2 linked regions of the Homo sapiens genome follow. The protein of the gene in region 1 purifies or fractionates together with the protein of each later gene. This does not show direct contact. Each region holds a gene or a part of one and is shown in the gene's direction. Other genes may lie near its edges.

Region 1 (4,103 bases):
ACTTTCCTCTCCTTCAGGAGGTCTGCAAAGTGACCTTAGATCTACCTGTGCCACCTAAGGACTGTGCAATGTGGGTCAGGCTCAGCCCACTCTGGTGCCCTCAGTGTCCTCATCTCCAAAATAATGGGGTTGACCTACTAGGATTTCACTATGGCAACACCACTGGTGTTTGGGGTAGAATGATCTCTGCACTGTAGGACATCCTTGGCCCTGCCTACCAAATGACGGTAGCATCCCCCAGTTTTGGTGACAACAACAACAAATGCCCACACATTTCCAAGTGCCCCAAGGGTACTAGGTCACTCTCGGCTGAGAATCTTCTTAGACCAAAAGCCATGAATATCTGTTTGTATCTTTCTCTGAGCCAGGACCATTTTCCTTCTCAGAGTCCTCCTGTGGGCTCCACAGTGCAAAGCTACTGCTCGGGGACAGCAGCAGGAAAGCGTAGTGGTGTCAGGGCCGGGCATGAGAATGATGCACAGCTGGGTTGGAGCTCCAGGTCTGTTCTCACAAGAGGTGTGTCCTTGAACATGTTTCCTAACCACTCTGAACCTCTGTTTCATCACCTCTTAAATAAGAACAACAATGGGACCCCTCCAGGGCTCTTTAACCCTAAGTCCAGTGCCTAGGCCATGGGGGTGCTTAGGAAGTGTTGGTTATGAATAGTATGGTAAGGTCTCCCTCTGGCTTTCCACCCATTGAACTTATCCCTTACAAAACTCTTTGCTGAAATGATTGAATTAATGATTTGTGCACTCATTTACTTATTGCTTCCACTCCCTGTTAGACTAAGATTCCTAGAAGGCAGAGAGGATCTGGGTCTCTCTAACACTCCATTTTGTCCCCAGGGCATGGTACACAGAAGGCACTCAATAAACATTTATGGAGTGGCTGAAAAAATGTTACCTCTCCCTTGTCTTTACTGTCCAGTGCCCACTGCCTTTAGTAGCAGAGTAAAGACAAATCTTTTTTTTTTTTTTAACCTGTAGGAGAAGCCGGGATGGAAACTCCAAACACCACAGAGGACTATGACACGACCACAGAGTTTGACTATGGGGATGCAACTCCGTGCCAGAAGGTGAACGAGAGGGCCTTTGGGGCCCAACTGCTGCCCCCTCTGTACTCCTTGGTATTTGTCATTGGCCTGGTTGGAAACATCCTGGTGGTCCTGGTCCTTGTGCAATACAAGAGGCTAAAAAACATGACCAGCATCTACCTCCTGAACCTGGCCATTTCTGACCTGCTCTTCCTGTTCACGCTTCCCTTCTGGATCGACTACAAGTTGAAGGATGACTGGGTTTTTGGTGATGCCATGTGTAAGATCCTCTCTGGGTTTTATTACACAGGCTTGTACAGCGAGATCTTTTTCATCATCCTGCTGACGATTGACAGGTACCTGGCCATCGTCCACGCCGTGTTTGCCTTGCGGGCACGGACCGTCACTTTTGGTGTCATCACCAGCATCATCATTTGGGCCCTGGCCATCTTGGCTTCCATGCCAGGCTTATACTTTTCCAAGACCCAATGGGAATTCACTCACCACACCTGCAGCCTTCACTTTCCTCACGAAAGCCTACGAGAGTGGAAGCTGTTTCAGGCTCTGAAACTGAACCTCTTTGGGCTGGTATTGCCTTTGTTGGTCATGATCATCTGCTACACAGGGATTATAAAGATTCTGCTAAGACGACCAAATGAGAAGAAATCCAAAGCTGTCCGTTTGATTTTTGTCATCATGATCATCTTTTTTCTCTTTTGGACCCCCTACAATTTGACTATACTTATTTCTGTTTTCCAAGACTTCCTGTTCACCCATGAGTGTGAGCAGAGCAGACATTTGGACCTGGCTGTGCAAGTGACGGAGGTGATCGCCTACACGCACTGCTGTGTCAACCCAGTGATCTACGCCTTCGTTGGTGAGAGGTTCCGGAAGTACCTGCGGCAGTTGTTCCACAGGCGTGTGGCTGTGCACCTGGTTAAATGGCTCCCCTTCCTCTCCGTGGACAGGCTGGAGAGGGTCAGCTCCACATCTCCCTCCACAGGGGAGCATGAACTCTCTGCTGGGTTCTGACTCAGACCATAGGAGGCCAACCCAAAATAAGCAGGCGTGACCTGCCAGGCACACTGAGCCAGCAGCCTGGCTCTCCCAGCCAGGTTCTGACTCTTGGCACAGCATGGAGTCACAGCCACTTGGGATAGAGAGGGAATGTAATGGTGGCCTGGGGCTTCTGAGGCTTCTGGGGCTTCAGTCTTTTCCATGAACTTCTCCCCTGGTAGAAAGAAGATGAATGAGCAAAACCAAATATTCCAGAGACTGGGACTAAGTGTACCAGAGAAGGGCTTGGACTCAAGCAAGATTTCAGATTTGTGACCATTAGCATTTGTCAACAAAGTCACCCACTTCCCACTATTGCTTGCACAAACCAATTAAACCCAGTAGTGGTGACTGTGGGCTCCATTCAAAGTGAGCTCCTAAGCCATGGGAGACACTGATGTATGAGGAATTTCTGTTCTTCCATCACCTCCCCCCCCCCGCCACCCTCCCACTGCCAAAGAACTTGGAAATAGTGATTTCCACAGTGACTCCACTCTGAGTCCCAGAGCCAATCAGTAGCCAGCATCTGCCTCCCCTTCACTCCCACCGCAGGATTTGGGCTCTTGGAATCCTGGGGAACATAGAACTCATGACGGAAGAGTTGAGACCTAACGAGAAATAGAAATGGGGAACTACTGCTGGCAGTGGAACTAAGAAAGCCCTTAGGAAGAATTTTTATATCCACTAAAATCAAACAATTCAGGGAGTGGGCTAAGCACGGGCCATATGAATAACATGGTGTGCTTCTTAAAATAGCCATAAAGGGGAGGGACTCATCATTTCCATTTACCCTTCTTTTCTGACTATTTTTCAGAATCTCTCTTCTTTTCAAGTTGGGTGATATGTTGGTAGATTCTAATGGCTTTATTGCAGCGATTAATAACAGGCAAAAGGAAGCAGGGTTGGTTTCCCTTCTTTTTGTTCTTCATCTAAGCCTTCTGGTTTTATGGGTCAGAGTTCCGACTGCCATCTTGGACTTGTCAGCAAAAAAAAAAAATAATAATAATAATAAGGCCTGCTGTGTAAGCTGACAGTATTTGTAGCTGATAGGGGGTTGGGAGGAAAGTGTCTACTAGGAGGGTGGGGTGAGATTCTGTGTTGATGTAGGAGGCCGAGAAGGCCCTTAACTCAAAGTAGCTTATTTATCCAAAATGTTCTGGATGCATCATCTCCAACCAAGGACCCCTTATTTATCATGCCTTTGTTCTCTTTTCCCTCAGATGTATATTTCTTTAAAAATAATTTTCCTAATAACAAAACTTATTTCTAAAACAGCTTAAAAATTCAAAGAAAAACCCCAAACACTGACATTACCTACACTTCCACTACCCAAAGACAAAATGTGCCCACTGTGTGCTTTTGAGTGTATTTTCTTTTAGTTTGTTTTTTGTTGGGTGCATATTTATGATAATAACAATGATGGACTTCAATTGTACTCACTGTTCTATTGTTGGTTTTAATTAGCAGCAAGTTGTGATCACTTTCCCAGGTGAATAAATCATTTCAAAGCATTGTTTTTGGTGCCTGCACTGAAGTCGTTGGCAGGGATGCACCCTAATTTACTCCACCTGTTTACCCACTATTGCTTGCACAAATCAGTTCAACCCAGCAGTGATGACTGTGGGCTCCATTCAAAGCAAGCTCTTGAGCCATGAGAGACACTGGTGCATGAGGAATGTCTGTTCTTGCAGGGTGCTCAGCTCAGTGAGCCAGACAGACACAGGGATGCCAACAGGGCCCAGGCAGCATGGCAGGGGGTTGGGGGGACTGCAGAGCTCAGGGTGCCAAGGCAGTAAAAGGGAAGAAGGAATCATCAGTCAGAAGACACCCTAAGCTGACGGGTGTCCCACCTTACAATACAGTGACACCATTGGGCTGACTTTTCTCCTTTTGTGGACACTAGAGCTGCACTCTTACCAAACCACACACCCCCTTCAGTGGGAATTGTGTTCACATGTGGTCTTTGTACAAAGAAGCTGGTGTCATGATGGTCTTGAAAACTTTTGTCTGG
Region 2 (3,500 bases), on another chromosome or scaffold:
ACGATAGGTCCTCAGGATGTCTTTGAACAACTTGCTGTTCATGGGCTGCCTCAAGCCACAGTGCCTTTGCACACGCTCTTGTCTTTCTCTCCTGGCAGTGCCCACCACACTTCCAGCCCTATGCAGGCCCCTCCTCTCTCCCAGGCACAGCTTGCTCTTGGTCTTGTGGTCTCATACAGCCCTTTGTACAGACTGACTATGGCCTGGATCTCAGGTGTTAGACTTTACTCTTGAAAGGATCTGGCTTCCCAGCTAGTCTGGGCGCTCTGGTCAGGGTAGGAACTGGATGTTACTTTCTGGAACTCTTTCTTTTTTTTTTGGGTTGGAGTCTTGCTCTGTCACCCAGGCTGGAGTGCAGTGGCGTGATCTCGGCTCACTGCAAGCTCCGCCTCCCAGGTTCACGTCATTCTCCTGCCTCAGCCTCCTGAGTAGCTGGTACTACAGGTGCCCGCCACCATGCCCGGCTAATTTTTTTCTTTGTATTTTTTAGTACAGACGGGGTTTCACCGTATTAGCCAGGATGGTCTCGATCTCCTGACCTCGTGATCTGCCTGCCTCGGCCTCCCAAAGTGCTGGGATTACAGGCGTGAGCCACCGCGCCCAGCCTCTGGATCTTTTTTGTTGTGAGCAGATGCTTGGCTTCTTGTTAGCGCCTTCACCTGTGCCTGAGTTGGTCTCTTCTCTGCCCAGATAAGGTGTACCTCGGCCCCCCACGCCTCTTCCAGGAGCTGCAGGACCTGCAGAAGGACCTGGCCGTGGTGGAGCAGATCACGCTTCTCATCAGCACGCTGCACGGCACCTACCAGGTACGTGGCCTGGCCTGACCTTTTTGGCCTGAGCTCCCCAGTGTGGGCAGTGCCTGGATTCAGAAAGCTGAGTAGGGAGGGGCTCCTCTCCTGGCCCATGTCCCCGATGTGCTCCTAGCTTCTGAGCTCCTGTTGGCAACTGTCGCTGCTGAAGCTCCATGTCCCTGCCTGGAAGTCTCTTTTGCGGCCGCTGGTTCGGGCGCATCCTCTGGTTTGGGTTGAGTGGAGCCTGGCTGTGGGGCCTTTGTTTGTTCTCTGCACAGTGGCCATTCCGTTATGTGGCCCCTCCTGGGCCTCTACCCAGTGTGGAGGGGAAGCTGGCTGCGACGGCATGTCCCTCTCAGAGGAGGGCTCCAGGTGGGATCTGAGCCCAGGGCTGGGAAGCCTGGGGCATGGCGAGTTGGCCTCCTGCGTGGGGCTAAATGTGCAGCCTCAGTGAGGCTCCAGGACTTCTTCAGTTTCTCTTCCTCTGGGGTGCTGTGATTCCTATAGGATCTGGTGTGGCTTTTGGGGAGCCAGTGTGCTGTGTGGTGACCTCATTGGCCTCCTGAACCCTAGAACCTGAACATGACTGTGGCTCAAGACTGGTGCCTGGCCCTGCAGAGGCTGATGCGGGTGAAGGAGGAAGAGATCCACTCGGCCAACAAGTGCCGTCTCAGGCTCCTGCTTCCTGGGAAACCCGACAAGTGAGAGGAGGGGGTCTTGGAGGGAGGGCTGCTGCCTCTGCTGGGCTTCCAGTGGAGCAGGGGATCCGGAGAGGGTACCTGGAGCCCTCTTATTTGTCGAGATGCCATGGTGGGAGTGGATATGTAGGCATCGTGGGCCATGTCTGGGATAGCATCTGGCACGCAGTAGGTGCTCATGAAAAGACTGTGGAATGAATGAATGAATTAATGAACAGCCTGGTCATGTCCTGGATAAGCCTGGCCCACTGTTAGGATACTCAGACACTCTGCCATTGGTCAGTTCCATTTGCGCTGTGTCCTTTTCAGTCACTTCAGCCTATCTAGGCCCCCAGGCCAGGCCCTGGGTTTCCTCTCTCTGGACCCAGCCTCCCCCCAGCACCACCTTAGCCCCAGAATGCCCACCACAGGAGCTGTGCACAGTAGACCCCAACTGAGGTTTGTGGAACTGATGACAGCCATAGCTGCTCGGCCTGGCAGAGACAGGGAACGGGATCTTTCTGGTCCTCCTGAGGCTTTGTAAGTTGGGTCTTTTTATTTCCATTTTACAGATGAGGAAGGTGAGGCTCAGAGTTTCAGGAGAGGCTGAAGGCCACATCGTGAGAGACAGAGCTGGGTCCTGATGAGGTCTGACTCTGAAGCCCAGGCCAGTGCAATGAGGGGGCTCAATGCCCAGGTTTTGGCCTCCAGGGTGGGGTGAAGGTGGGGATAGAGTGTCACAAGCACAGTGGCTGCAAGGAAGAGAAGGTTGGAGCACTATCATTTGAGGTAGGACCATGGGCTCAGTCCCCCAGGGGACCATGTGTAGGAGTCAGCAGCTTTGAATCTGCCGCCTCCCTGTTGAGTGGCCTGTCCGTCTCCCTTCCTCCATCTCCCTTCTCTCTGCCTCTCATTCTCCACGTGCACCCTAGAGGCTTGTGACACTGCCCTGCCCACCTCCCAAAGGGCTGGGAAGGCCCCCACTGCTCTGAGGTGAGAGGACAGCGTGGTGACAACAGCAACCTCTGGTTGCCCCAAGCTGGTGCTTAACCTGATTCATTCATTTCTTCATTCATTCCTGTGTCCACTCAGCAAACATTTACTGAGCAACTGTCCCATGCCAGGTGCTGGGAACAGACCCAAGTGAGACCCATTCCTCCCTCTAGAGGCACGTGGTCAGACATGTAAGGTGTCTAAGACCTGTGGACAGCTGACCGCTGACCAGGTGGAGTCACAGCCTGCAGAGGCTCTGCCGGGCACAAAGCCAGAGGCTCCTGGAGCCAGGCTGGGGAGCGTGGCTCAGCCACCCTGGCCAGGTACCTCCCTCTGGGGGTCATTGTGGGCGGAGGGATTCCTCCCCCAGGGGACCGAGGCTTTGCCAAGCCACTGACCTCTTTGGCCACGTTTTGGGGATGCTCTGACCAGACCTCCTTGATCTCCAGGGCGCGTGGGTTGGAGGAAGTACTACGTGACAGCTGGGGGAGCCTGGCCCTTGTGTGGGTACTCACACATCCACTCTAACCCTTCTCACCACAGGTCCGGCCGCCCCATTAGCTTCATGGTGGTTTTCATCACCCCCAACCCCCTGAGCAAGATTTCCTGGGTCAACAGGTTACATTTGGCCAAAATCGGACTCCGTGAGTATAGCCCCAGGGAGAGTGCCTCAGGGGGCAGGGGTGTGGAACGGGGAGGTTTGGGGTGAGTGAGGGTACAGGATGGGTGTTCGGGGTCAGCGGGGGGCAGGGAGGCTTCTGAGTGGGAGGGAGGTGGTGCGGTGGAGAAACAGCTGGGGCCAGAGCCGGAGGCTCTGCTTTGTGACCCTGGACAAGTCACTTCCCCTCTCTGAGCCTCAGCTTCCCCATCCAGGAATTGATGGAACTTGACAGAAAGTAAATTAGTGGTTGCCAGGGACCTGAGAGGAGAGGATAATGGAGAATGACTGCTAGACTGCTAGGGGTTTTGGTGGAGGTGATGAAAATGTTCTAAAATTAGATGGTGGTGATTGCTCAACTCTGTGACTACACCAAAAATC

The links. The genes of interacting proteins can lie anywhere in the genome.
Region 2: the proteins of CCR1 (region 1) and ARHGEF10L purify together in Homo sapiens (affinity purification with mass spectrometry; one large-scale study listed by BioGRID and IntAct). This does not show direct contact.

Annotation. Positions count from the first base shown.
Region 1 is NC_000003.12:46,201,211-46,205,313, reverse strand, and holds the end of CCR1 (C-C chemokine receptor type 1), read left to right. Parts: intron 1-989; 5' UTR 990-1,000; coding exon 1,001-2,068; 3' UTR 2,069-3,603; downstream 3,604-4,103. UniProt on the Homo sapiens protein: Chemokine receptor that plays a crucial role in regulating immune cell migration, inflammation, and immune responses.
Region 2 is NC_000001.11:17,637,198-17,640,697, forward strand, and holds part of ARHGEF10L (rho guanine nucleotide exchange factor 10-like protein), read left to right. Parts: intron 1-690; coding exon 691-806; intron 807-1,364; coding exon 1,365-1,492; intron 1,493-2,040; coding exon of another isoform or gene 2,041-2,044; exon of another isoform or gene 2,045-2,634; coding exon of another isoform or gene 2,635-2,656; exon of another isoform or gene 2,657-2,784; intron 2,785-3,004; coding exon 3,005-3,105; intron 3,106-3,500.